7 linked regions of the Homo sapiens genome follow. The protein of the gene in region 1 purifies or fractionates together with the protein of each later gene. This does not show direct contact. Each region holds a gene or a part of one and is shown in the gene's direction. Other genes may lie near its edges. The genes, in order: ASB12, MTHFD1L, PFKFB3, GLO1, RBM6, CADPS2 and DHX36.

Region 1 (4,664 bases):
ACTTCATGAGTGAGGTAGACAAGACTGGGGAGGGAACTAAATAGATAACAGATTGAAAGAAATAGTTGAAGGAGCTGGGGCTGTTTTCCCTGAAACAAGGTGACATGGAGGATATAATATCTGGGTTCAGATCCCTAGAGGGCTGTTTTGGGGCAGAAAAAGTGAGAGCTGAGTTTTTGACAAAGTTTCCAGTGCTGGACACATTAAAGTAATGGTGATGCTTTAGGGTGAGGATAGTGGGAGGTTGTGGGCATTTTCTTCAGGCTGAGCCTGGTGGGTCAGTGGACTGGGAAGGTCTTTATAAATGACCAAGGCCTTCTTAAGCTTTAGAAAAGCTGAGTGAGAACACATTCTGTTATGGAGGCTTCTCCTTCCTACCTTCCTCCTCACTCTGAGCAGTGAAGGAAGGGGAGGGGCAACGAGTTGGAGGATATGCAGAGAGGCTCAGTTCAGAAGAGAAAAAAGAAGAGATTCCTCAGGGATATAGAACTAGAAATACCATTTGACCCAGCAATCCCATTACTGGGTATATACCCAAAGGATTATAAATCATGCAGCTGTAAAGACACATGCACACGTATGTTTACTGCAGCACTGTTCACAATAGCAAAGACTTGGAACCAAGCCAAATGTCCAACAATGATAGACTGGATTAAGAAAATGTGGCACATATACACCATGGAATACTACGCAGCCATAAAAAATGATGAGTTCATGTCCTTTGTAGGGACATGGATGAAGCTGGAAACCATCATTCTCAGCAAACTATCGCAAGGACAAAAAACCAAACACTGCATGTTCTCACTCATAGGTGGGAATTGAACAATGAGAACACATGGACACAGGAAGGGGAACATCACACACCGGGGCCTGTTGTGGGGTGGGGGGAGGTGGGAGGGATAGCATTTGGAGATATACCTAATGTTAAATGACGAGTTACTGGGTGCAGCATACCAACATGGCACATGTATACATATGTAACTAACCTGCACGTTGTGCACATGTACCCTAAAACTTAAAGTATAATTAGAAAAAAAAAAAAGAGAAAAAAAAAGTGTGCTAGGCTGAGGCTGGACCTTCTCAGTGCCCCCTGGTGGAGGTGTGGGAACAACCGCAGCTCAGGGGCCTCACCCTGTCTCCCATTTGAGTGGCAGGGAGGGATATAGGAGGATAGGCTGGGAGCAGGAACCCTAGCCTCACCAGGCACCTGTCTATCTGTCAGTCAGTCCTTCCAGGACTTCCCCATGGGAGAGCCCCTCCTCTTACTGAAATCGCTCCCAGAATGGCACTGGTAAGATAACACGGCCTGGGAAGAGGGGGTGGAGGGTAGCCTAAAATTAGCCCCTTGGACCAAGACTAGGGACTGACTCCTAGTCTTTCAACGGCATTGTTAACAGTGGGAAACGAGAGCCCCAGCTGCTCCAGGTTGGGGCCGTGGGGGCTCCCTAAGGAGGGGACACCAGGGCCCCAATGTTTCACAGAGGGGCGGGGGGCAGCGACCCTGGGCAGCATGGCCTCAGGCTGAAGCCCGGTGAGTACCTGGAGCCTAGGACCGGTTTGAGAAGAGTGACCACTGCGGGCCCACAGACCTGTGATCACCCACTTCCCGTTGTAGGCTGTTTCCGCTGGGTCTGGGACGTGGTGGGAGTTGGGGGAGGCGCTTGGAAGGTCGTTAGGGCAACCCACCAGGAGGAGGGAGGAGGGATATAATGCCAGCTCCCTGCCTTGTGTGTCCCAAGAGGATATGTCTGCCTAGGACCTCGGGTCTAAACAGACCTGCTTCTTGAGAGCAATTGTGATTATACACTACAGGAAGTGTGGAGATTTGTCTTTGTGTCCCTGTGTGGTGTTGGCTAGTCTGTGTGTGTGGGTGCCTTAGAGTGGGTTTAAGGGCATAAGGGCAGAACTCGTAAGGGTGAGAGAAGGAAGATGAGGCTTAAAAACGTTCTGCTAATGCCTGAAGGAATGCTCTAGGATGCACGGAAACCAACCACTTTCCTGTGGGAGTACTTAACCTGGATTGACAGACACCAAGAGGGCCTTAGATAGAATTCAAGGGGTCCAGAAACTTGGATGAATAGACAATTACCTTTTTTCCCCCTAACCTCTAACTAAAATGTACTATTTCCTTCAAGGATGAATGCAGGTATCAAATGGCAGTAGCATAACCAGTTCATGTAATTTGGTTACCAGAAGAAACCACAGATATTTCATATCATATTACAGTTGTGGCAGAGATCTTGAAATGTCATTTATTACCACTTAGAAATTATTACTAGACCTTTTTATTTAATGTGTTACTAAAGAACATCTCTTACTATATCATGCATTTAAAAATATTTTGACAGTCACATTTTAATATAATTGGTTTCCTTTAATTTTATGTGTTTTATGTAGCAAAAACCATTCTGAAAGGTGTTTACAGACTTTGCTAGTTTGTCACAGGAACCAATATCACAAAAAAAAAGGTTTAAAACTCCTACATCTTTAGGATCAGGAAGGAGCTACGTGCACATAACAGGCACATAGTAACTCTTTGATTAATAAACTACAGCAAAGTGAGGTAAGACAACAGGCTAGCTGGATTTCCTTGTCCTTATCTAATGGAGGCACGATTCACTCCAGTGCCACAGCCAGCTGGAGAGCATGGCTTGGTCTCCCTCTGGAGGCTCATTATATGAGCTCTGCTGTGGGCTCTTGGTATGAACCTTAGCAAGAACTTCAGCACTTCCCTCTGCCACTCCCTGCCAATTATCTGCCCAGATCCCAGTCGCCAAAATAAAATATTAAGGAGGGAATTCCTACCAGTTATCAGAATAAATTATTTGTAAAGGAACCTTCCATTACCGAAGACCCTGGAATTCAGCATGACACTCAAAAGCTGAAGATCCTGGGAGCTGCAATGTGACTGCTGGAGTCAAGGGAGGGGGGTATGTGTTTGTGTTTCATCTTGTAATAGAAAGAACAGGAGGAGGAGTAGAGAAACCTGGATTCTATTTCTGACTCTGCTTTTGCCTTGATGTAAGGTATATGGAAAACCCCTTACCCTCTCTGGACTCAGTTTCCTCCATCCAAAAAATGGGGATAATATTACCTATTTTGTTACATGAAATTGCTTTGAAAAGCACAGGATTATAAGTGTGTTCTGAGTTCTTGTTAATGAGACAACTAACAATAACAACCATGTGACCTTACCAAAGTCCCTGCTCTGCTCTGAACCTTGGTTTCCCCATCTGTAAATTGAAAAAATTAAATTAAATGATCTACAAGGTCCCTTGCAGCTCTGAGGTTCTAGAACATTAAGTAGGGAGCAATAGCCTTAGAAAATGGAGACATAAGTAACAATCATCATCATAGTAAAAATAGTTACTGAGAACTACTTTCAGGCACTATTCTAAGCACTTACTATGTACTAACTCATTTAATCCTAAGAACCCTCCAAGGCAGATACTATTGTTATTTTGTCTTTACAGATGAAGAAATGGGCACAGAGAGATTAAGTGACCTGCCCCAGGTCACACAGCTACTAAATGCTAGAGCTGGGGTAGAAGCAGAACTCCCATGTTTTGCCACTACCACATAAGGCCTCTTTATCTGCACTAGGGCAAACAAAGACCCATATAGAAGTTACAATACAGTGTGATGACTGCTATAGTGCTATAACACAGACTCTGCAGGAATTAACTTGGCAGAAGGAGTTGCATGTGGCAGAAAGAAACATGGTGTATATGGAGAGCCATCACTTTTTGTCTCTTGTCACTGGACCTCAGGATATAAGTCAAGGAGTAGTAGGAAGTGAGGCTGGAGAGATTGGCCAAGATTTATTCATGAAGGACCTCTGAGCTGGGCTAAAGTATTTGGGCTGTAGCTGGAAAGAAAGGGGAGCCATTAAGGTATTTAAAACAGAGGATTGGTAGAGATCAGATATGTATTTTTAAATTACCACTTTAGCAACAATGTGGAGAAAATATTGAAAAGAGAAACTACCTATGAGACCACTATAACTGCTGAGGCAAAAGGCAGTGGGGGCCTAGATGAAGCATAGTCAATGAGAATGGTCCCTGAAGAGCACAGATGGTCTGGAGAAGTCTTTAGTAGGTAAAATCCACAGGACTTGATGGGATTTTATGAGAGTGGGATAAAGAGGCAAGAGCATTGACAGGAGTCTTGGTTTTTGGTTTGGTTGACCAGGTAGATGGTGAGGAAATGATATATGGATCAAGTTTAGTCATGGTGGTAGTGGTGGTGATGTGATACTGCTGTCTTTGAAGTGCTTGAAGAAACTCAGTGGATACATGCCTGGAGCTAAAGAGAGAGCTGGGGGCTCGGATAGAGACGCTTAAAATAATCAGAATAAAGGTGAGAGCGACTGGAGAGAAGAGGTTGGAGAAGAGAACACAAATATTTCAGGGGAGAATGGGAAGGGAGAAAAATCAGGAGAGTGTGCTGGCAAAGAAGCTGATGGAGGAGTTTGTAGGGAGGAGTGGTCTGTAGGGATAGATATTCCAGAAAAGTCAGGGAAGAAAAGATCTTCAAGATATCCACTGGATTTAACCACAAAGATGACCTTTTGAAGAGCTTTCTTGGTGTATGTTTGAGTGTGGGTGAAGCCAGACTGCAGAGAATGGACAAGTGAATGGAAGGTGGTGAAGTACATAGTAGAA
Region 2 (3,403 bases), on another chromosome or scaffold:
ACCACCCACCTCTGGAGCATGGAAGGCCTTGTCCAGCCTTGCCTTGCCAAGCCAAGGGTCATCTCTAGTCCACTGAGCCCACCCTCTACCCTAGCACCCCTCCTGTCCCAAGAGTCATTGACCCTCAGGTCAAGGGATACCAGAGCCACTACAGTGAGGCTGGCCGTGTCTCTGAAATATTTTCTTTTTTTTTTTTTGCCCTTCTCTCTTCCTCGGCGCTGCCTATGGAGGTGGCAGCCATCTCCTCCTCGGCATCTTGGCCGCCCTCAGACCCCTTGTGAAGCCCAAGATCGTCAAAAAGAGAACCAAGAAGTTCATCCGGCACCAGTCAGACCATTATGTCAAAATTAAGCGTAACTGGTGGAAACCCAGAGGCATTGACAACAGGGTTCGTAGAAGATTCAGGGTCCAGATCTTGATGCCCAACACTGGTTATGGGAGCAACAAAAAAACAAAGCACATGCTGCCCAGTGGCTTCCGGAAGTTCCTGGTCCACAACGTCAAGGAGCTGGAAGTGCTGCTGATGTGCAACAATCGTACTTGTGCCGAGATCGCTCACAATGTTTCCTCCAAGAACCGCAAAGCCATCGTGGAAAGAGCTGCCCAACTGGCCATCACAGTCACCAACCCCAGTGCCAGGCTGTGCAGCGAAGAAAATGAGTAGACAGCTCGTGTGCACATTTTCTGTTTAAATAAATGTAAAAACAGCCATCTGGCATCTTCCTTTAAAAAAAAAGAAAAGAAAGAAATATTTTCTTTCTTTTCTTTTTTTTTTTTTTTTTGAGACGCAGTCTCGCTCTGTCACCCAGGCTGAAGTGCAGTGGCACGATCTCGGCTCACTGCAAGCTCCGCCTCCCGGGTTCACGCCATTCTCCTGCCTCAACCTCCAGAGTAGCTGGGACTACAGGCACCTGCCACCACGCCCAGCTAATTTTTTTGTATTTTTTTAATAGACACGGGGTTTCACCGTGTTAGACAGGATGGTCTTGATCTCCTGACCTCGTGATCCACCCGTGAGCCACCGCGCCTGGCCTGAAATATTTTATTTTTGTTCATCTTTGTTGTGCTTATAATACTCCTGTTTTCTGTTTATTCCCCTGACTTGAACCAGATGTTAGGGGAGTATTTGAAGCTCCTCGTTCCCTCTCTTCATCAATATCTTCTGTCTAGAAACTAACCAAGCACCTTATCTGGCTCCAGACCTCTCAGTGATCTGTGGGAGGCCAACTCGCAGGATTTCAGCAGAGTTTGCACTTTCTAGGCCTAAAAGATAAGTCCTTCCATGTGTAAGTTCAGATTAAAGGCAACATATTGCATTTACATTTTAGAGAGGTGAACACATTATTTTCTGGGACTTAAGTGTTGTTTTGTTTCTTTTTTTTTTTTTTAATGTAGTTTATTTCTCTTTCTAAGAGATTACAGGATTCAAGAATGGCAATGAATCTTAATAGCCTTTGGGAGAAAGCAGCAAAGCTTTAATACTAAGTTCCAGGACCATGAACTTCCATGTTGTCCTAAATGCATTTTTCAAACATTGCTTTCTGTGCCTACTCTATAAAACCTAAAAATCCAAGGTGACAGTATTCCTTATCTAAAATCCTAAACAAGGCTGGGCGTGGTGGTTCATACCTGTAATCCCAGCACTTTGGGAGGACAAGGCAGGCGGATCACTTGAGCCCAGGAGTTCAAGACCAGCCTGGCCAACGTGGTGAAACCTCGTCTTTACTAAAAATACAAAAATTAGCCGGGCATGGTGGTGCACACTTGTAATCCCAGCTACTCCGGAGGCTGTGGCGGGAGGATTGCTTGAACCCGGGAGACGGAGGTTGCAGTGAGCCGAGATCTCGCCACTACACTCCAGCCTGGGCGACAAAGTGAGACTCTGTCTCAAAAAATTAAAAAAAAATTTTTTTAAATCCTAAATATTCTCATTCCACAGGATCCTGCAAACTGTAGATCCCAAACTTGGAAGTTCTGGGAATTCTGCCAGTATCCCCAAGTAAATCTCTTGGGAAGTTTAGAATGCTGCATGGCGTAGCTGTGCCTGCTCTTATAGAGTGGTGCAGACTCTGCTTCTCCACGTCTGCTAAGTAAAATATTCCAAACACAGATCAGCCTTATCTAGCGAACCATCACTCTGCTCTTGAATTTTCTTTTGGCCTCAAACTCTAGAGCTATAACATGTTAACGGTTTAACACCAGAGGAGAAAGCTATTCTTAAACTACTCAAACATGGTTTTTTTTTCTATTTTTCAGACTCCTGAAACAGACTACTCTTTGCCTTTTTGCTGCAGTTGGAGAAGAAACTGAATTTGAAAAATGTCTGTTATGCAATGCTGGAGACATGGTGAAATAGGCCAAAGATTTCTTCTTCGTTCAAGATGAATTCTGTTCACAGTGGAGTATGGTGTTCGGCAAAAGGACCTCCACCAAGACTGAAAGAAACTAATTTATTTCTGTTTCTGTGGAGTTTCCATTATTTCTACTGCTTACACTTTAGAATGTTTATTTTATGGGGACTAAGGGATTAGGAGTGTGAACTAAAAGGTAACATTTTCCACTCTCAAGTTTTCTACTTTGTCTTTGAACTGAAAATAAACATGGATCTAGAAAACCAACCAGCAAGTTTTCAGTGCCAGATAAAACTCTGCGCTCTAGAGGTAACTCCTCATGGGAGGCAGCTAGGAGTGTTACCTGACACCAGTTTCCTAGAAAACTGTGACAAGCAAAGCAATAACACACGTCGAGAAATATCTGATCAAGCGGGAAATCTTCTGACTGTCGGGGATCTCTAGTAAGATCTCTTGGAATGAAGTGCACTGTGTATCCAAAACTATTTTCCAGCGCCAGTGAAGTTGCTCTTACCTAAAACAAATGGGTTTATGCTAGTTTCCACCAAGGAATGAGTCTCGATGGCCATTAAACTTTCTAAGGCCCACAGGGCTAGGAAAAGTCGCTCTTAAAGGTCAGGTGTTTGGAAAATGTTTTTCCTTTTGCCCAACCCTTAATTAGTAGTAGAGAATGTTCTGTGGCCTATTCCCCTCTCTGGGAGTTCCTGACCCTTCTTTGTTTTCCAGTTTTTCCTACAATAATATAAAATTACGTAAAAGTTAAAACAAAACCAAGGATTCAGGAAGAAACAAGCAGTGATTGTCCTCTAGGCAGCGTAAGGAAAATAGTCACCATAAATATCTTAGATGCCCCCCAGGCACATCCTGCAGGATCTTTTCTGCATCCTCTTGTCCTACACCCTCCAGTGACCCTGCTCAGCCATTGCTCAGCCCATAATGCACCTTTATGCACAATTTGTCCCAAAACACTGTTTAGTAACTCAAAAGCCTCCCACTCAAAAGCTGTCTGTCCCAAGAATAATTTCACTTGGCAATTCTGAAGTGTCCTTCCC
Region 3 (4,217 bases), on another chromosome or scaffold:
GAGGGGTGCTGGCCAGCCTGCCCAGCGCTAAGCAGTGTAGAATGGAACCACCAGTTACTCTGCTTGTCGGGGCGTGTCGGGAGTTGCTTGGGCTGCCCCAGCGGATGCACCGGCGCTGACATTCGGGCAATGTCTTGTGCATTCCAGGCAATGTGCCTTAGCTGCCTTGAGAGATGTCAAAAGCTACCTGGCGAAAGAAGGGGGACAAATTGCGGTAAGTCCAGGCAATGTAGCCGGCTCGGTGTCCAGTCCCACCCATGAGGGTGTCCTCACCGGCCTGGGGTGTACCGAGACCTGTGCCTCTGGCCCTGAGGGTGGAGGAAAGCAGGTGGCCAGGGCAGCCCAATGGCTCAGGAAGGAGGATGTGGGGTGGACTCAGGGACCCACCCCCTCTGTGGCCAGTCCCACACCTCCAGGGCGGGCAGGACTCGAGTTACCCACAGGACCACTGGCCCTTCCTTGTACACTGTCCCATTGCACATTACTGTTTTGCTTGTTTGCTTTTGGGGTATTTCCCCCACGCTACCACCCCTGAGTGCTGTTGGTAGTTGCGGGAGGCCTGCCTCCTAAGCACTCCCTGGAGAGGACTGTGGGCAGGCACAAGCTCCCCTGAAGCACTTTTGGGGCTTATTCCTGGAGATGATGGGTCTGGCATCTTTGCTGTTCTGGTAAACGTTGTTAAACTCAAACTTAGAGTTTTCTTCCTGGCCCTTTGCTCTCCATATCAGGTTTTCGATGCCACCAATACTACTAGAGAGAGGAGACACATGATCCTTCATTTTGCCAAAGAAAATGACTTTAAGGTGAGCTGAGCGTCTTGTGTTGTGCTAGAGGGCTCGGGAGAGAGGAAAAGGCTTCAGGAAGCGGCCTGAGTCCTGCTTGGTCCTTCCCCTCCTGCTGCCCATGTTCCTTAGTCCTGCTCGGTCCCTCCCCTCCTGCTGCCCACGTTTTGTGGCCTTAAATTTGGGCCTTTGTGTGGTAGGGCTCTTGGGGGCCATGGGGCGTTCCAGAGGCTGCAGTGAGGAGGTGGGCTTTCCTGTGTTTGGGAGTTGGTGGGTGGCGTGCTTCCGCCTTGTCCGGGTGATGACATCGCAGTGATGGCAAGGTTGATCCTTCGTGGTGTTTGTTTTCTAACATCCCCACCTCACTTCCACCAGGCGTTTTTCATCGAGTCGGTGTGCGACGACCCTACAGTTGTGGCCTCCAATATCATGGTAAGACAGCCGGGAGCCCCGTGCTTCTGCGGCAGCGTAGACCACAAGGGCATTTGCAGTCTGAGGAAGTGGGGGACCGGGTCCGGCTCGGAAGCGCAGCTGAGCCCTTAGGATGAGCAGCCCCCAGCTGGCTGTTGATTGGGAGGTCAGACCTACAGAGCGGTTTTTAACCCAGAGGCCTGTCCTGTGAGGGACTAGCTCCATCCAGGGCAGTGGGCAGGCTTGGATGGGACGTAGGAAATAATTCAGGGAGATAGGATTAGTTTCTGTTGGTGGCAGGAGCCTGACAGCTAGTGGTGATGGAGCTGCTGGGGCAGAGGGCCGCTCACTGCCCCTAATGGGACAGGTGGCAGCAAGTGGATCACTTGCTACAGCTCCAGGAGGTAAGAATGCTTGGGCATTGGCAAAAGTCCATAGGGCTCAGCAGCCTCCTGAGTTTGGGAGGTAAGACTCTCCTCCTGCTGATGCATCTCGTGAACCTGCCACAAACCCTCCTGTCTGTGCTGTGCAGGGGAGCTTGCCCAGATAAATTGAGGGCACTTGGCATCATAACTTGATGAATTTCTCCAGTGTTACCACTTGATAGCAATATATATAAACAGGAATGGTTACTATGGAGACTTACTACAAGCTGCCACCCTGTGTTGGAGATAATTTCCTCTTCAGCTTAAACATATCAGAATATGACAATTCTATAAAGAAAAGCAGTTCTGAAAACTTAACACTGGGACGCTGTGGTGCTGGCATCTTTGCACCTTTAGAGGGGATGCTAAGCATGTGTTAGCCCCGGTATCTTCCCCAAGGTGGTGGAAGTATTTCTAGATATCTTTAGGAAATGAATTCCTGTTTCAGGAAGGGCTATTTGAATTGTGAAAAGTCAGTTTAGATTTGTCCAGTGGGAGCAGGAGGCTCAGAGTATGAGGGTTTGCCACCTTTCTTTGGCTGGGCACTCGTTGTTCCCCTTGGTAGACAGCAGGGTGCAGCTGTGAAGTCATTTTTCCCAGTGAGTGGTCACCAATGTGCTTAGCAAGGAGTTTAGCATTTGTCTGGTTGTCCACTAGCAGATAATCATTTGCCCCAACCCACCATGTTCAGAAATCTCTTTCTGATGAAATCTCAAAGCAGCTTGGTAGAGCCAGGCATTTGTGAACTTAGATTTTTTTTTTAAATTGTGGTAAAATATACATAATGTAAAATTTACCATCTTAATCATTTTTATTATTTATTTATTTATTTATTTATTTATTTATTTATTGAAACGGACTCTCCTTCTGTTGCCCAGGCTGGAATGCAGTGACACGGTCTTGGCTCACTGCAACCTCTGCCTCCCGGGTTCAAGCGATTCTCCTGCCTCAGCCTCCCGAATAGCTGGGATTACAGGTGTGCGCCACCACGCCCAGCTAATTTTTTTTGTATTTTTAGAGGAGACGGGGGTTTCACTGTGTTGGCCAGGCTGGTCTCAAACTCCTGACCTCAAGTGATCTGCTTGCCTTGGCCTCCCAAAGTGCTGGGATTACAGGCGTGAGCCACTGCATCCGGCCATTTTAGCTATTTTTTAAGTGTGCAGTACAGCAGCAAATTATATTCCCATTGTTGGGCAACCGCCACACTCTATCCGCAGGACTTTCTCATCTTCCCCGGCTGAAACTGTGCCAGGACACAGGCACAGCTCCCGACTGACTCGATCTTTGAAGAGTGGCTGCCTCTCAGTGACGGCAGTGGTTGATGAGAAAAAGAGCCCAGGCATTCAGAAATGCTGAGTTTCCCTAAAATCCACCTGGTTTCTGGGGCCTGTGCCACTGTGGGTGTTGGTAGACCTGTGTTGTTGCCTAGGAGAGCGAGCCCTGCAAAGGAGCCGGCACAGCCCTAGTTGGAGAAGCAGTTAACCACGGACTGGTCACACTGGGGCTGCCTCAGGCAGTGGGGGGTGGAGGAGAAACCACACAAGGCCAGAGGCATCTCTGGGAACTCCTGAGCATACCTTAGAACCAGCAGCCTCCTCCCGGCACGGGGAGCATTGCGGATCCTCACGTGGAGCTCGGTTGAGTTCAGCGCCAGGCTGTCTGGCGGTGACTCGGGCACGGGACAGATCCTGACTTGCTGGAGCATTCAGAGGTGTTCATTATGGAATCCCTGTGGGTTTCCTGTCTCTGTCCTTCCGGCTTCAGTTCTCCATCTCCCCAGGGAATCCTCCCCATGTAACATCAGGCTGTGACTCAGCCCCCAGCATCTTTCTCCCTTTCTCTTACACGCTGGGCCGGATAATCTTTATACTGAGCCTTCTGTGCGCTCCCCTTTTGAAAGCCCCAAATCCTGCTTAATCTCAGCAGAAAGCCTTCCAGCGTGATTTATCAGCCACCCCTTTGTGGTGTTGCAGGAAGTTAAAATCTCCAGCCCGGATTACAAAGACTGCAACTCGGCAGAAGCCATGGACGACTTCATGAAGAGGATCAGTTGCTATGAAGCCAGCTACCAGCCCCTCGACCCCGACAAATGCGACAGGTGATTCCCGTGGCTGGCCGTCTCTGCAAGACCCACATGAGGGTTCTTACTGAATTCTTGATGTTCCCACAAAGGATTTGCTCCTGGATACCTTTAAAAAAATTTTTTTAAGACAGTTTTTTTTGTAGAGATGAGGTCTCGCTATGTTGCCCGGGCTGGTCTTGAGCTCCTGGCCTCAGGTGATCCACATACAGCCGCTGGATACCTTTATCAACTCTCTTTGAAAATATCTTTTAAAAACAATCCTTGATGACAAATCATATTCAGTGGGAATATTTTGAACACTGTGTAGAAGTACAGGAAGTCAACATAGAGTTGAGCCTGATTTTGCTACTGTCCCTCCGATAGTTCCTTTCTTTTTTCTTTCCTTTCTTTCCATTTATTTATTTATTTATTTACTTACTTACTTGCTTGCCTGCTTGCTTAGAGACAGGGTCTCCCTTTGTCTCCCAGGCTAGAGTGCAGTGGCATGATCATAGCTCACTGCAGGTTCAAACTTCT
Region 4 (4,217 bases), on another chromosome or scaffold:
TGAAGATGATGAGACCCAGAGTTACCACAATGGCAATTCAGACCCTCGAGGATTCGGTAAGTTTGCCTGTTTTTATGTGATATATGTAGATTTGTGTGATTTTGTATTATGTATATAATTATGATTTTAATAAACCTAAAACATTAATGTCCTAATTAAGTATGATCAATTTATTAGAGATATGATTATTTTTATTTTCCACAAATAATCTTATTTAGGAGTTGTTTAATTTCAGAGTCTCGATCTAAAATTACACTTACCATCTCACCATGATTTACTTTTAAGTCTCAGAATTAATTTCCAGTAGACTTTTTTTTTTAAAAAAGCTGTAGTTAATACTAATCCCAGTTTCTGCTAGCACATACACTTCTGCCTTGATCTCCAGTCTCTCAATCAAGATGACAGTATTGCAGGCTTCAGCTGGCTGCTATAGTCAATGCCAACCACAAACCTATTAAGTATTAGTAAATGATTACTGTTTTTTGGTGTCGATTATTCTTAACTGATTAGACTGTATATGAGCTGATATTGATTAATTTTAAATAATTTATAATTCAAGGCAACTAATTAACTACTTATACCCAGCCCATTAGATCTATATTTGTTCTTTAATGTATTATAGATTTTGAACCTACCTAAGTCTGTTCCCAAGTGCCTTATGTTTTGAAATAAACAAGTTTTGGAATCTACTTGTGGTACTTGGACACCCTGTTATAATTATTTCTTCCTTCTCTCTGCTTTTTTCGGGGGGTATCACGTAAGGTCATATTGGAATTGCTGTTCCTGATGTATACAGTGCTTGTAAAAGGTTTGAAGAACTGGGAGTCAAATTTGTGAAGAAACCTGATGATGGTGAGTCTACTACTTACTGTGTTCAGGCCTGTCTTTAGTTGATATTTACTAACCACCTACAGAGGCCACTGTTGTAGTAAAACCCTTTTGGCTACAAGTAACAGAAGTCTCCACTTCAACCAGAGTTTTAAAAAAGAGAAATGATTGGAAGAATATCTGGGTATTTTAGGGAACTGAAAGACAGCAACTAGGGTGGCTTTCCAAGGCACTAGACACAGGACCTGGACAGCCATCAAAACCCTACGCTTCCTCTCCCACTGCCCGACCCCACCACTTTCTTTCATTGGCCACCAGCTTTCACTATTTCAGTGTATATCTTTCCGCCCAAAAATAAGTTCCTTAAAGTCCATTTTATCTGATGCTCATATAATGACACCAGCTCTCTTTAGTTTATAATCACATGGTATTTCTTTTTCATCTTTTATAACCTTTGTATGTCCTTAAGTTTTAGGTAGGTTTTTTGAAATAGCCTACGTATGGATTTTGCTGGGTTTACATGTATTGTTATTATTTTACTTAGATCTCTTTCTGAACTATTTCAAATTAAAATTGAAATATTAAATATTTCAGAGTCTCAATCTAAACATTTGAAATATTTCACTGTTTAATTTCAATCCTTTTTTAAAAAAATTAAAATACTTAATATCCAGTGCTGGGCGTGGTGGCTCACACCTGTCATCCCAACACTTTGGGAGGCCAAGGCGGGCGGATCACGAGGTCAGGAGATCCAGACCATCTGGGCTAACATGGTGAAACCCTGTCTCTACCAAAAATAGAAAAAATTAGCCAGGCATGGTGGTGGGCGCCTATAGTCCGCCTACTCAGGAGGCTGAGGCAGGAGAATTGCTTGAACCTGGGAGGTGGAGGTTGCAGTGAGCCAAGATCGCACCACTGCACTCCAGCCTGGGCGACAGAGTGAGACTCCGTCACAAAAATATATATATATTTAATATCCAAATCTTCTCCCCAATAAGAAAGGAATTTGCTTCACTCTGTCCTCATTGTGTCACTATTACCTAGAGTGGGATAGTATTGATTTTATTTTTTAAAGATAATAATAAATATATCACGGTGTTTGATCACTTTTTCTTCATATATCTCTTGTAGTGTCTCCTTTGAGACAGGATCTCACTCTCATCCAGGCTGGGGTGCTGCAATGGCACTGTCATAGCTCACTATAGCCTTGAAACTCCTGGGCTCAAACAATCCTCTGCCTCAGCCTCCTCCTAAGTAGCTAGGACCACAGGCACATGCCACCACACCCAGCTAATTGTTTTATTTTTTTGTAGAGATGAGTTCCTGCTATGTTGCCCAGGTTTGTCTCAAACTCCTGAGCTCAAGCGATTCTTTCACCTTGGCCTCCCAAAGCACTGGGATTACAGGCGTGAGCCACTATGCCCAGCCTTTTTAGCATCTTTTGGATTTTTCTGTTCTTTTATTTAAATACCTCAACCAAAATGGTCTTTAAAGGGGTTTTGTTTTTGTTTTTTGAGACGGAGTTTCGCTCTTGTTGCCCAGGTTGGAGTGCAATGGCACGGTCTTGGCTCACCGCAACCTCTGCCTCCTGGGTTCAAGTGATTCTCTTGCCTCAGCCTCCCGAGTAGCTGGGATTACAGGCATGCACCACCGTGCCTGGCTAATTTTGTATTTTTAGTAGAGACGGGGTTTCTCCATGTTGGTCAGGCTGGTCTCAAAATCCCAACCTCAGGTGATCCGCCTGCCTCAGCCTCCCAAAGTGCTGGGATTACAGCTATGAGCCACCGCACCCAGCCCTTTAAAGGGTTTTTAAGGCAAAACTTTTGAGATTCTGTGTAACTGAGGATGATGCCTTTATGTCTGAAGGACAGTTTTATGGAAAAGCCTAGGTTTAATTTCCTTCAGTCTTGAAAATACTCTTCTATTTTCTTTTTGCATATGATGTTGCTGTTGAAAAATCTGTCAATTCATGTTCCTTTGTATATTCTTCTGTTTTATTCTAGAAGCTTTTTATATTATTTCTTTGTCACTGCCTGCATTCTGGGAGATTTCCTCAAACTGGAATACCAATTAGCTAATTTTCTCCCAAATGTATCTGTTCTGATATTTAATTCATCTATTTTGTTCTTAAACACCTGTTATAATTTTGATCTCTAATTTTCGCTTAGTTTGCTTAATATGTTCTTGTTCTTTTTTTCATATTGGTAATATTTCATATTGTTTATTACTTTTTTTTTTTTTTGAGACAGAGTCTTGCTCTGTTGCCCAGGCTAGAGTGCAGTGGTGTGATCATAGCTCACTGCAACCTCAAACTCCTGGGATCAAACAATAATCCACCTCAGCCTCCTGAGTAGCTGGGACTACAGGCAAATGCCACCATGTATGGCTAATTTTTTATTTTTTGTAGAGACAGGGTCTTACTATGTATCTCAGGCTGGTCTCAAACTCCTGGCCTCAAGTGATCCTTCTGCCTCAGCCTCCCAAAGTATTGGGATTACAGATGTGAACCACCACACCCGGCCGGTCATTACTTTTACATGTCTAAATAGTCCTTGGGTCTGGGCATGGTGGCTCATGCCTGTAATTGCAGCACTTTGGGAGGCCGAGGCAGAGGATTGGGAGGTTCGGGAGGATCACTTGAGGCCAGCAGTTCAAGGCTGCAGTGAGCTATGATTGTGCCATTGCATTCCAGCCTGGGTGACATAGGAAGACCTTGTTTCTACAAAAAGGTTTTTTTTTAAATTATCTGGGCATGGTGGCACATGCCTGTAGTCTGTATGCCTAGCTACTCGGGAGGCTGAGGTGGGAGGATTGCTTGGGCCCAGGAGTTGGAGGCTGCAGTGAGCTATGATCCACTGTACTTCATTTCAGTATAAACGACAGAGCAAGACCCTGTCTCCAGAAAAAAAACAAAAATAGCTCTTGGTCCATTATTCTAATATTTCTTCTGTTTGAATCTACAGTCCATTGCTTTGGGGGTGTTTTATGGTTATGTTTCTCAAATTATTATTTTTTGCCTCTGAGCTTTTTTCCCCTGCAACTGTTCGCTATTCTAACACATCAAGCAGTGTGAATAGGAGAATGGCCAGATCCCTGTCCTTAACAACCCACATGATCTCAGGACAATGGGCTGGATAAGCCTAGGCCAGAGATTCCTAGGCACCTAGAAATGAGACTTAAATTTATTTCACCTTCCACAAAACACCTCTTCAGGTTGGATCTTCCCACTTCATCCCTCAGGGAAGAGTATTAGTAGGAGACACTTCCGATAGTGTTATTCCCTAGCCCTGGGCGTGGAGAGAGGGCTGGGGAGATCATTCGGCCCTACCAGTTTTTCTCAGTTTCTCACAAGCACAAGGCTCCTGCACTGCCCTTGTTTACTGGTAAGG
Region 5 (4,217 bases), on another chromosome or scaffold:
ATATAGACTTCATAGGCTGTGCTGATCCCTCCTTATAAGAAGATGGAGAACAAAAGCAGCCTCAAAAGATAGTGCATACATTTGCCAAATTATATAATACAATCAAAATAGGTGCTTTTTATTATTTGTAAGTTTATACTTCAATGAAGTTGATATCTTTTTTAAAAGGTGGTGTTAGGGTCTCTAGGTAGATAACACTCCTCTTTCCTGCTTAGCTTTTAAATTAGTTGAGTTAATGAACAAGTGTTGAATAGCGCTGCTGAAATAGCATCTTTTACTATTAAAGGCTAAGCTGGAGGAAGTAGCTTAGTGTCAGAGTCAAATGGACTTGCTACCTCAACCACACAGTTAGGGTGAATTACCCAGTCATAGGCTTCACTGGCCTCTCTCATGATGGTTAAGAACCCACCTATGGGTCAGGCACGGTGGCTCACGCCTATAATCCCAGTACTTTGGGAGGCTGAGACGGGCGGATCACTTGAGCTCACAAGTTTGAAACCAGCCTGGGCGACATGGCGAAATCCTATCTCTACAAAAAATATAAAAATTAGGTGGACATGGGGTGTGTGCCTGTAGTCCCAGCTACTTGAGAGGCTGAGGGAGGATCGCATGAGCTGGGAGGCAGAGGTTGCAGTGAGCTGAGTTTGTGCCACTGCGCTCCAGCCTGGGTCATAGAGCCAGACCTTGTCTCAAAAAAAAAAAAAAAAAAGGAAGCCACCTGTGGAGAGCCAGGCACAGTGGCACATGCATGTAATCCCAGCAGTTTAGGAGGCTGAGGTGGGAGAATTGCTTGAGCCCAAGAGTTCCAGGCTGCAGTGAGCTATGATCACAGCCCTGTACTCCAGCCTGGGTCACAGAGTAAGTCCCTGTCTCAAAACCAAACAAAAGAATCCACCTATGGAGGACTGTTAGAGATAGTGAATTCACAAACTGAACTGGCCATAGGACAGTGGAAAGTAGATTGTAGTATTTTTCCTTTCCTTAGAGTTGTCTACTACAAAGAACCACCTCTCCATGTAAGAGCTGCTTTGGACTCCTTAAGTTTTATATTATATGCCCGAGGGCTTGTATAGTGGAGGGCTTGTGTACTTTCCCCTGCTTCTCAGAAGGGGAAAAGACAGCGGAACCAAGCGTGCCAACTTATTCTTTCCAAATGTTTAAGTTAGGAAGTCACTGCTTTCTCTAGAAGAACGTGTAAAGGAGTGAGAGATTCCAGGAGTTACCAAGTGAGCTACTTTCACTTTAAAAGAAATAACAAGGCCGGGTGCGGTGGCTCACACCTGTAATCCCAGCACTTTGGGAGGCCGAGGCTGGTGGATCATGAGGTCAGGAGTTCGAGACTAGCCTGACTAACATAGTGAAACCCCGTCTCTACTAAAAATAGAAAAATTAGCTGGGCATTGTGGCACTCACCTGTAGTCCCAGCTACTTGGGAGGCTGAGGCAGGAGAATCGCTTGAACCTGGGAGGCGGAGGTTGCAGTGAGCTGAGATCACGCCAGTGTACTCCAGCCTGGGCAACAGAGTGAGACTCTGTCTCAAGAAAAAAATAATAATAATAACAGCAATGGGGTAGAATTTCCCCACTCCCCAATTCCCTCAGGTGGCAATCTCAGGTCTGCTCTTCTGCTTACCAACAGGGAAAGTTTAAAGGAAGAGGAAATGATCGCAGGGAAAAGCTCCAGTCTTTTGACTCTCCAGAAAGGAAACGGATTAAGTACTCCAGGGAAACTGACAGGTAAGCCAGGAACTCTTCATTCAGCCTAGGCCTCAAGCCTAATGATAAAACCACCTCCTCCTTCAACTGTACTGCTGTTTTCTGTCTCAGGGAGATGATATTATGAGTAGATTCTGTCTGAACTGCTAAAACATGAGGTCTATGCCAGCCTTTTTACTATCTGTCTTTATACGGGGAGTGTACATGGAAGGTTGGCTGGCAGCTTCGCCTTCCCAAAGCCAGGGCTGGAGTAGCCATGATCGGGAACCCTTTCTGTCTTCATCAGTAATACTGCACCCTCTTTACGGGCCTGATAAGAATGTCACACTCTTGGGCTTTTTCTCTAGGGAACCTCCATTCTCACACATAGGTGCTAAATAAATGGTTGGCTGCTGATGGAGATGTATGATATCTAGCTTCCTATACTTGTTTTCAGTCAGCTAGTTCCCAAGTTGTAAGCCCAGAGTTATATAGAATTTGTTGATAACCCACTGTTTACAGGTGTCAAGTGCAAGAAATACTCAGGTGGACAAGACATAGATTATCCTTGACTGAACACAGAATAGACAAGACTTAGGTGATGGTGCGTCTCATAGGGCAGACACAGAAATCAGTGGGGAAGGGAAGGGCATTTCAGGGAATTTCATATACCAGGGATATAAGAGCTTATGATGTGTTTGAGGAGTTGCAAATAGTTTGATGGTCCTGAACACTGCAGGTATATTGTTGAGTGACAGTAGATAAGCCTGGTCCAAAAGATGCAGGCCAGTTCATGAAGTTTAAACACCTTGAACACCTTGCTAAGGCTTTATCTTAAAGGCAGTGGACGGTCATGGAATAATTTTAAGCAGGGTATTGACTTAGCTTTGCATTTTGGAGAGATTACTAATCATGTGGAAGATGAGTTTGTAGAGAGACTAATGCATTATGCAAATTCTATAGTAATTCAAGTGAAAGATCATGATTGCCTGAGTGAAGGTGATGAGTCTAGAAAGGAGAGTGGCCTATAATCCCAACACAGAGAGGCTGAGGAAGGAGGATCTCTTGAGCCTAGGAGTTCCAGGCCAGCCTAGGCAACATAGGGAGAAGGGAGACCCTGCCTCTATTTAAAAAAAGAAAAGAAAAGGAGTGTGGCTTAGAGAGAGGTGTCAGATCTGCCAGTCTTTGTGATCACCTGGGGAAAGGGAGAAGTCACTGATGGTGTTCAGGTCTCTGGTCTCTGGATAGCTAGGAGGAGAAGGGACAGTAAAGTCCTTGAAAAGGAAAAATGGGGGCCAGGCGTGGTGGCTTACGCCTGTAATCCCAGCACTTTGGGAGGCCGAGGCGGGTGGATCACAAGGTCAGGAGTTCGAGACCAGCCTGGCCAAGATGGTGAAACCCCTTCTCTACTAAAAATATAACAATTAGCTGGGCGCTGTGGCAGGCGCCTGTAATCCCAGCTACTCAGGAGGCTGGGGCAGAAGAATCGCTCAAACCTGGGAGGCAGAGGTTGCAGTGAGCTGAGATCATGCCACTGCACTCTAGCCTGGGTGACAGAGCAAGACTCTGTCTCAAAAAAAAAAAAAAAAAAAAAAGAAAAGGAAAGGAAAAATGGGGCCAGGTGTGGTGGCTCACACCTGTAATCCCAGCACTTTGGGAGGCTGAGGCAGGTGGATCACTTAAGGTCAGGAGTTCGAGACCAGCCTGGCCAACATGGTGAAACCCTGTCTCTACCAAAAATATAAAAAAATTAGCCAGGCGTGGTGGTGGGTACCTGTAATCCCAGCTACTCGGGAGACTGGGGCAGGAGAATCGCTTGAACATGGGAGGTGGAGGTTGCAGTGAGCCAAGATTGCACCACTGTACTCTAGCCTGGGTAATAGAGCGAGACTCCAAATCAAAAAAAAAAAAGAAAAGAAAAGAAAAGGAAAAGTGGGTAACAAGTGGATGCATGAGCAGAAGGAAAGGGAGATAATTGACAGAGCAAGGCCCTTGAGGAGGCTGGACAGGTTTTGGGGCTCTGGCATTCCAGCTTATTTGATCCAACCCACAATAAGAGAAGTATTTTTGTATCATGGCCCAATAATAAAGTGTGTGTGTGCACAACTGAAAAAGTTTTCATCTAAAATACTTTCTTACCAGGTACAGTGAACCCTGATATTTTTATTCAAGTCTAGTCTCTCTTCATTTTTATGAGTTGTTACAGTGGGACCATTTAGTGTGACATTCCATTGGGTCATTCTCTGCAATTTGAAATACAGTGGATTAGGACTAGGTGAAGGAGTCAGCCATCAGGAGGAAGGACACCTTGGCCTTGAGTCTTCTGGGACAAGGCTTAGGTGGGGTGCGGAAAGAGACCCTTCTTTATTCTCAGCACCCTTTATACCACATTCTCCTGGCTCTTCTCCTTTCCAGTCACCTTTTCTGCTCCTCTTCCTTTTCTGGATAAATCCAGGTGTTCTCTAGGACTCTTCTCTCAGTGCTTCTTTGGTCTTGCTGCTCTACCCTCTTGACCTGGGCTTT
Region 6 (4,217 bases), on another chromosome or scaffold:
TTCTCCAAAGTAAAAATATTATAAGAAGCAGATTTGCTTCTTTGCCAATTGTATTCAGTTATTCTTAAAACTCAGTTCCTCTAATCTACCAAGCTGTACACTGTGGATGTGAAGGGAGATTTTGTTTGTTTGTTTTCTCTTAATTGTATGATATATATGGCAAAAGGAGAAATAAAGGTAGTGTTTTTTTCAACACTTTCACTGTAGTATCAGAATGGTGTTGTCTAGTTCTCTTATTTAATGGTGCATTTGAGGCACTGAATATTACGGTGAAGAGATTTAAGTGAGTAAAGTGCTACGGGAGTGTTCAGTGCTTTGCTATGATTGGTCCCTAGAGAACTTAAGTCTGAGGGCATTTTGGCTAGACAAGGAGATCAGGAGGAATTACTGGCAGAATGAGAAGAGAAAAGCAGTGTAGGTTTGTGATAGAGCTTTGACGCTGAGGCCAGGGTGGAGGGCAGGAATAAGCTTTTCATTAGTCAAGAGCAAGAGGTGCCTTTTTTTCTAAGCTAGCTCATAAAGATATATTTAGCGAAACAATGTGGTGCTTTAAACAATTTATTTTTTTTTAATTTTACTTTAAGTTCTGGGATACATGTGCAGAATGTGCAGGTTTGTTACATAGGTATTTTCCCCTGTGCTGTTGTAATAAATGAGTTTATTTCTTTAATTTTCTTTTGTAAACTAGAAATATAAATTTTAAGTTAGTATATGTGAAGCAATTGTGGGAAAGCTGAGAACAAATGAATCATACAGCAGCTTTTTTTTGCTTTTGCTTTTATGCTTTTTATGGTTAAATTTCAATATGTTTTAATGTAGGAATATTTTACTTTCAAAACACTTGTTTCTGTATTAGCCTATGTACTTGCATAATGGAAAGTAATAACCATTTGCCAAAATATTATATGTACTCTTCTATAAGTTACCTTCTAGAAGGTAACTTCTATAAGTTACTGTAACTCTTCTATAAGTTATCTTCATACATGGGGTGATAGCACTCCTGTAGAGTAATTTTACCATAATAGTGAATGCTTAGCAAATCTTGGCTCCACAGTTAGATATAAGGACCTGAAACGCATTGTTTTTCTCCATCTTCAGAGCACCCTGAATGTCATTTCTCTGTCAGACAATACCTTGCACTAAGTTGGGTTTTAATAAGCCAGAAAAAGCAAAAAATGAAAATAAAAGATTGCTTCCCTACCTAGCCCGTTTTATTTCCAGTTCCTGTCTCATCTTTACCTGTAATTGAGAAATTCAAGGACCCTATGTTCTACACACGTGTAGATAGACAGAAACCACCATGGTGACAGAGGCACATATGCATGAATAACGGCAAAGGTACTGGTTACTAACATAAGGATTTTCTTGCATAAAACATAATTTTGGGGATTTGCAAGAATCTTTATCCTAGAGATTGGTAAAGAACAGTTACAATGTTTGTTCTTATGTACACAATATAACTTCCTTAGTAAAGTATACATATCCATTTTACCTCTTTGTATGAAACCCTACCACCATATTTATTTCTATTTTGTTCTCCTTGCCCTGCCTTATTAAGAATTGTAGAGGAACAATTAGAAGGCTGAACAAAGAAAATATTGGATCATTAGAGACTTTATATGGTATTTTTTTCACTGATGGCAATTGATGCAGAAAAGAAAAAACAATGTATTAATGGTATACCTAATTAACGGGGAGTTCATGATGTTCATTTTTCCTTTTTCTTCTAGCAATGGCTCAGCAACATCAGAAGACCTTTTTTGGAAGCTTGATGCACTGCAAATGTTTGTCTTTGATCTGCACTGGCCAGAACAGGAATTTGCCCACCACTTAGAGCAAAGACTTAAACTAATGGCCAGTGATATGCTAGAGGCCTGTGTCAAAAGGTAGACATGTATTTTCAAATTGCTGCTTAATGTGCCAGCACCCAAAAATATCACTTTTTATCAAGTACCTAATATATTATTGTCACAGCAAAGGTTTCATTATGCACCACTATTCCAACATTTAATGAGTATTAGGTTATCTTGATTAAATTCTGGGGACCCATGTAATTGATGAAATTGGCTGGATACTTTTTTTCAGGTCTCCCAACTATTGCCTTAATCAGTAACATCTATACCATATTAATGGTTTCTTTAGGGCTTATTGTTATCTCTCTGGGAATACTATGCTTTAAATTCCCAAGGTAATATCTCCTGAGACGTATGAAAAAGGTCTGTTATGTTCTGTATGCATTATGTACTGTGTCTGTGTGCTGTGAAATGGCATAGTAAACTCAAAATAGGATCAGCACCATCAGTTGTTCTGGGATTACTAACTATTTTCTGTCCACATCAGATGAGTTCCAACTATCTGCTTACATTCTTTATCACTTAACTGGAAATAAGTTATGAGGCTTCATATTCTTCCAAATGTGCTTTCATTTTATCGTAGTTTTAAAAAATCAGCTTTGCATCCTAATTGGTCAAGCATTTTTTTCCCATTGTCCTTGTTCATTATATATACAAGGACAATATGGAGCCACATATTAGAAAAGTGTTCAAACACTGGTTAGACCAATTGGATATTTCTGAAATCTTGAAACCAAGAAAAAATCTGTCTTTAGAATAATGTTCAGTGGCCCCTTAAGGCAAGGCCCTGGATTAGGTAGTTTAATGTTTTTTAAAAATCATCTTTGATTTTGATGTCTCGATTCTGTGGATTTTCATAGGATACTTCAGCAAAACCAATTCCAAATTGCTCATGATGCAGTTCCTTTCAAAAACCTGCCTGCAATTTTAGGTTTTTGAAAGAGAATGTAAGTGACATAAAAGAATTACACATTGTCTGTTGTACATTGATTACCATGTTTTAGGGTTTTCTAGGTTTGTGCTTATTTTTTCTAATTTGGTAAGACCTCACATAGAGGATATATTCTGCTTAAATGCATACAAGTGTGTGATTTTTCTACTTGGAAATTCAGACAATTAATTCAGACAATTAAGTGAAATTATGAGTTTTTTTTCCATTAAATGTGGTACTCTAGATATAACAAAAAGCTTCATTTGGGTGGCAATACTGCCTGAGTGACTGCATGAAGCTAGGCTTAATATAAAAATATGACAATCTGATCTTTCATTGAGACACTTGAAAAGAAAAGCATCCCACCCCTTAGCTCCCAAGCACTGCCACACTGCTTACTCCTTATTTGCATGTTTTAAATTAGCATCTTGTAGTGTTGATTTCACTTTTTACAAAACAGGTGAGCTGTATAGCAGAATTTCTTACTCTGAATTCATGTTTTAAAAACTAGAACAAGAACTGCATTTGAACTCAAGCTACAAAAGGCAAGCAAAACAACTGACTTGCGCATTCCAGCTTCCGTTTGCACTATGTTTAATGTATTAGTCGATGCCAAAAAGCAAAGCACCAAACTCTGTGCCCTGGATGGAGGACAAGAGGTATGTAGAATGTGCCACATGGGGAAAGGCAGCACAGGGTGCCTTGGCATGGGAAATGCCCTTTCCACAAGGCATTCTCTTGATTGGATTGAAAAGACCAAGTTCTCTAGCACCAAACGTTTGATCTTTACTATAATAACAGAATGCCCTTTATCCTTTGCTCATGTCAGTTTCTCCTTTTTGATATAAATATGGTCTAAAATTGCATTAGTGGCCATGAATTTTAGATATAGCTTTTAACAGCTGAAGTGTTGTGTCATTTACATAAACCTTGCTTTTTACAAGCAAATGAGAAAGCTGGAAAGCTACCTGTTTTGTTTATACAAATCTAGAGTATCCAGAGTTTGCATCTATAAAAGTAAGACACACGAAAAAGTGTGAAATAGTTTATTTACACAGTAGCTTCCATTTTTAAAAATTTAGGTTGAAATAGACTTAAAAATCTAGGCCTAGTTCTTATCAATAAATATCCTATTCTTTCTATTTTATTTATATTTTGTTTGGTTTTATATTCAGAAGTACAATTTTATTTTACCCCATGATTTTTTGTTGAGAGTGGTGATTGGGTGAAAATTGATTTATTTTTCTTCAATTATCTGTTTTAAGTTGATTTTGTTGCCTTTTTTTCCCATTGTAATTACTTTTTCTTCATTTCTTTATTCTTCCCTTCTGTTCTCTTTCATCATCTTTTTTTTTCCACCCATGGCATGATCCAGTTTGGTAGTCAATGGGTAAGTCTCATTTTTTTTTCTAAAAGCACATTTCATTTGAGTT
Region 7 (3,500 bases), on another chromosome or scaffold:
AGAGCAAGGCACAGTAGGGTTCGATTTCTGTTCCTGTCCCCACATTCTAGTTGCTATTTTGATGATTCAAACTGAGAATTTTTGCTAACACTACTAAAATCTGTTGAAAAGTATCAAATAGGATAGATATCTGTAAGTTTTCTGGTTTAGTATAGTGAAACACCACAGGCAAGCATTTGTAAAACAGAAGAAAACAGTAAAGAGGGCATATGCCATCACATTTCAGACTACACTGAACTGGGTATTCGAAGCCAGTGAGAATAGAAATATCCTCATCTTCTCCCAGTACACATACACTCCAGCTATGTGACATGAGGCCTGATACTGGACATTTAACAGATCTACAAATTAGTAAACAAAAAAATCTAACATACCAAATCAGAAGTGCCCAGTCATTAGCAAAATGGAAAAAAAGGATCACCACAATTCGGAAGGAAAGGAAAAGAAAAAAAAAAGAGTGGAATGCCATGTTTCAGTAGAAAACACCTTTAAACTGTTTCATAATATGGAATAGCTAATAAGAATATGAATTCAGCAAAACATAGGTTAGAAAATAAACAGTAGAGTGAATGAAAAGACACCTGAGCTAAGAAAACAAATTGAAGATCAAAAGAAATCACAAGGAACAGAATGGACACCCCTTAAAAACAAGTTATTGCCATAGGAAAAAAGCTTGAAGTAATCACAGTTTATGGAGGTACCTGAAAAAGACAAAAATTAAAGCAATAAGTAAAATCTTAAAGACAGGAAGACAGGACTCATCCATTATGAGAACAGTAGACATTAGTGTCTGCATACAAATCCTGTGTAATTGAACGTTTATTTTGAGATGTATGTAAGAACACGTTTTGAAATGGAAATAATGAAATGAACAGAGAAGTGAACAGAAGCATGAAAACATAACTGAATCCAAGTGTTTGAGAATGTCATGTCCAGTCAGGATATGAATTCAGGTGTAAAGAAAAACAACAGGCATTCAAGAAATACTGTACCCCTGAGCTCTTCTTGAAAAGCCCATTGACGGTGAAATGCTGTTAGTTAAAAGGGGAATCACAGTGGAGATTTCAGGAATGGAGAGTGCATGCTTAATCAGCTGGTGTATATACATTAGAAGTATTTAAATATAGAGCTAATAACAAAATGGTGTTAGGAATTACACATGCAAAATAGAATGTAAAGATTATTATCCTGAACAGTATAAAATAATGGCAGTAAAAACCAGGAGGTGTCTAAGAAAGTCAGGTGTCAGAAAAATTAGGTGGGGAAAGTCACACCTTTCATAAAAGGGATATATACTTAAATATAACCAACTTTATGTTTCATAATCTCTAAAAGGAATTCCTTAGGAAATATTTCTGTTATGAAAATACAAGATTCATCTGGTCATTCACTTTCCTTTCTATTTAACTTTTCTTTAAATTGTACTAAAGTTAATTGTTTTATAAAGAATTTCTATACTATGATTCTGTTATTAGGATGCATTTCTTCTATCAGTATATATACTTAATGGGTGTCTGCAATCTTATTTATTTAGAAGACTGAGTATTGAGGCAAGGGAAGTACTTTTCTATGTTACTTGAATGCTTTGTAATAAGCCATGTATCATTATTTAAAAAAAAAACAAAACCTTAAGCTTACCTGCCATTTTTAACCATATTTAATTCTCAGTAATAGAAATATGGATGTGGATTATTTTCTTTATGCTTTTCTATATTTTTTAAAAAATGGGGGTGGAAAGTAATTTTAAAAATTCTATTAGTCTTTCACAAAATAGAGTAATCCTTAAACATCAGTGGCTATTCCTTACAACATGCAAACTTTTTCTGTGAAAAGTCGGGTAATATTTTAGGCTTACAGGCCATAAGATCTCAGTTACAAGCATTGACCTCTGCCATTGTAGTGCAAAAACAACCAAATGTAGATGAATGGGTGTGGCTGTGTTCCAATAAAATGTTATTGACAAAAACAGCTTTTGTAGTTTGCCAACCCTTGCTTTAAAACATGTTTGCTAAAGTGTTTTCATAAAGCAGGGATAGCTTACAACTCAATTTATCTATTAGTGTATGGTTTATAGCCTCAATGTGTGAAAGGTATTCTAGTTCTATTTGTTACCATTGCTCCCTAGATGCTGCATAACATGAAAGGACAGTTTGCTGAGCATCTTCTTGGAGCTGGATTTGTAAGCAGTAGAAATCCTAAAGATCCAGAATCTAATATAAATTCAGGTACAGCAGGAAACACAGTGTAAATAAGTATCTTTTGTCTATTGTATCAGTATTTTACTTTTCTTTTCCCCTCTACCTTCTCACCCCCCATAGATAATGAGAAGATAATTAAAGCTGTCATCTGTGCTGGTTTATATCCCAAAGTTGCTAAAATTCGACTAAATTTGGGTAAAAAAAGAAAAATGTAAGCATTGAAGATTATTATTAATTACTCGTAATTCTCTTCTTAAACTTTTGAAATCTGCTCATGTAACAAGGCTTATATTATAAATTTGTTCTTATTCATATGTGGGTTATATTCTTGTTCTTTTAATCATTTCAGAGAAGGTGAACTGTTTAGCCATTGGTATCACTTTCCCTCACAACACATCCTGGAATCACCTCTTTGATAACCCATTATTCACAAAGAATGCTACCACATGATACCAGTGTAAATATTAGAAGAGCCAGCCTGCTAGTAAATACCAGTGGCTGGATAAAAATTGCTTAGAGTAGATTTTATTTCAGAAACTTTTTTCCTCTTGCCTTATAAATGGATAACTTAGCTCTTTGAATAACATTGTGATTTCACTATTTTGAGAAATAAAGTGTAATAATATATTTACAGGTAGCCTCAGTAGTAATTGGAGACAACAGTGAAGCATGAGCTAGAATGAGCTCATTCTAGCTAAAGGATACAGAGAAACTAAGAGTCACAAATGGCCAGTAGTGTGGTTGCTGCTATTTTGGAAGACACTCTGTATTAGAATTATGATTGAATCATTAAAATAGTCAGTGACCCAGTGCATGAGTTTTTAATTTGATAGATGTGTCTTAAGGAAGTAATTTCAAATGTTTTCTAACAGCTATATTGTAAATAATATAGATTTCTAGTAGCCATGGGAAAATTGTGGTTTTATAATACTGTAATGCATCTCCATAGGTGGGCATTAAAACAGTCATTGTGTAGTAACATGTAAAGTATTTAAACTGATGTTAAATGAAAGTTGGATATTCTAGAATTATAAACATGAAAAAATAAAGACTTTAAAGATAGGCCAAAGTGCAGACATTGTTCTTGGGCAGTGGTTCTCAACTGGCATGATTTTGCCCCCAAAGGGGACATTGGAAAGTGTCTGGAGATACTTGTGGTTGTCATAACAGTGTGTCAGTAGTACTAAAGTCAAGAAACCCTATTCCAAGGTATAAAGTAATGGGTAGCTGATGAATTTTAATCATTGTGGTTGGATTATTCACATTTTAAGTGACCTAAGTACTTTTTCAAAATAATACTTG

The links.
Region 2: the proteins of ASB12 (region 1) and MTHFD1L purify together in Homo sapiens (affinity purification with mass spectrometry, with the first as the bait; one large-scale study listed by BioGRID). This does not show direct contact.
Region 3: the proteins of ASB12 (region 1) and PFKFB3 purify together in Homo sapiens (affinity purification with mass spectrometry, with the first as the bait; one large-scale study listed by BioGRID). This does not show direct contact.
Region 4: the proteins of ASB12 (region 1) and GLO1 purify together in Homo sapiens (affinity purification with mass spectrometry, with the first as the bait; one large-scale study listed by BioGRID). This does not show direct contact.
Region 5: the proteins of ASB12 (region 1) and RBM6 purify together in Homo sapiens (affinity purification with mass spectrometry, with the first as the bait; one large-scale study listed by BioGRID). This does not show direct contact.
Region 6: the proteins of ASB12 (region 1) and CADPS2 purify together in Homo sapiens (affinity purification with mass spectrometry, with the first as the bait; one large-scale study listed by BioGRID). This does not show direct contact.
Region 7: the proteins of ASB12 (region 1) and DHX36 purify together in Homo sapiens (affinity purification with mass spectrometry, with the first as the bait; one large-scale study listed by BioGRID). This does not show direct contact.

Annotation. Positions count from the first base shown.
Region 1 is NC_000023.11:64,227,330-64,231,993, reverse strand, and holds the start of ASB12 (ankyrin repeat and SOCS box protein 12), read left to right. Parts: upstream 1-1,386; 5' UTR 1,387-1,531; intron 1,532-4,664. UniProt on the Homo sapiens protein: Probable substrate-recognition component of a SCF-like ECS (Elongin-Cullin-SOCS-box protein) E3 ubiquitin-protein ligase complex which mediates the ubiquitination and subsequent proteasomal degradation of target proteins.
Region 2 is NC_000006.12:151,099,270-151,102,672, forward strand, and holds the end of MTHFD1L (monofunctional C1-tetrahydrofolate synthase, mitochondrial isoform 2 precursor), read left to right. Parts: intron 1-198; exon of another isoform or gene 199-726; intron 727-2,256; 3' UTR 2,257-2,618; downstream 2,619-3,403. UniProt on the Homo sapiens protein: May provide the missing metabolic reaction required to link the mitochondria and the cytoplasm in the mammalian model of one-carbon folate metabolism complementing thus the enzymatic activities of MTHFD2.
Region 3 is NC_000010.11:6,215,978-6,220,194, forward strand, and holds part of PFKFB3 (6-phosphofructo-2-kinase/fructose-2,6-bisphosphatase 3), read left to right. Parts: intron 1-147; coding exon 148-214; intron 215-728; coding exon 729-803; intron 804-1,157; coding exon 1,158-1,214; intron 1,215-2,571; exon of another isoform or gene 2,572-2,594; intron 2,595-3,541; exon of another isoform or gene 3,542-3,591; coding exon 3,592-3,716; intron 3,717-4,217. UniProt on the Homo sapiens protein: Catalyzes both the synthesis and degradation of fructose 2,6-bisphosphate.
Region 4 is NC_000006.12:38,678,647-38,682,863, reverse strand, and holds part of GLO1 (lactoylglutathione lyase), read left to right. Parts: coding exon 1-56; intron 57-762; coding exon 763-852; intron 853-4,217. UniProt on the Homo sapiens protein: Catalyzes the conversion of hemimercaptal, formed from methylglyoxal and glutathione, to S-lactoylglutathione. Involved in the regulation of TNF-induced transcriptional activity of NF-kappa-B. Required for normal osteoclastogenesis.
Region 5 is NC_000003.12:50,068,817-50,073,033, forward strand, and holds part of RBM6 (RNA-binding protein 6), read left to right. Parts: intron 1-1,638; coding exon 1,639-1,736; intron 1,737-4,217. UniProt on the Homo sapiens protein: Specifically binds poly(G) RNA homopolymers in vitro.
Region 6 is NC_000007.14:122,386,252-122,390,468, reverse strand, and holds part of CADPS2 (calcium-dependent secretion activator 2), read left to right. Parts: intron 1-1,730; coding exon 1,731-1,886; intron 1,887-3,295; coding exon 3,296-3,443; intron 3,444-4,159; coding exon of another isoform or gene 4,160-4,174; intron 4,175-4,217. UniProt on the Homo sapiens protein: Calcium-binding protein involved in exocytosis of vesicles filled with neurotransmitters and neuropeptides. Probably acts upstream of fusion in the biogenesis or maintenance of mature secretory vesicles.
Region 7 is NC_000003.12:154,279,488-154,282,987, reverse strand, and holds part of DHX36 (ATP-dependent DNA/RNA helicase DHX36), read left to right. Parts: intron 1-2,125; coding exon 2,126-2,225; intron 2,226-2,318; coding exon 2,319-2,409; intron 2,410-3,500.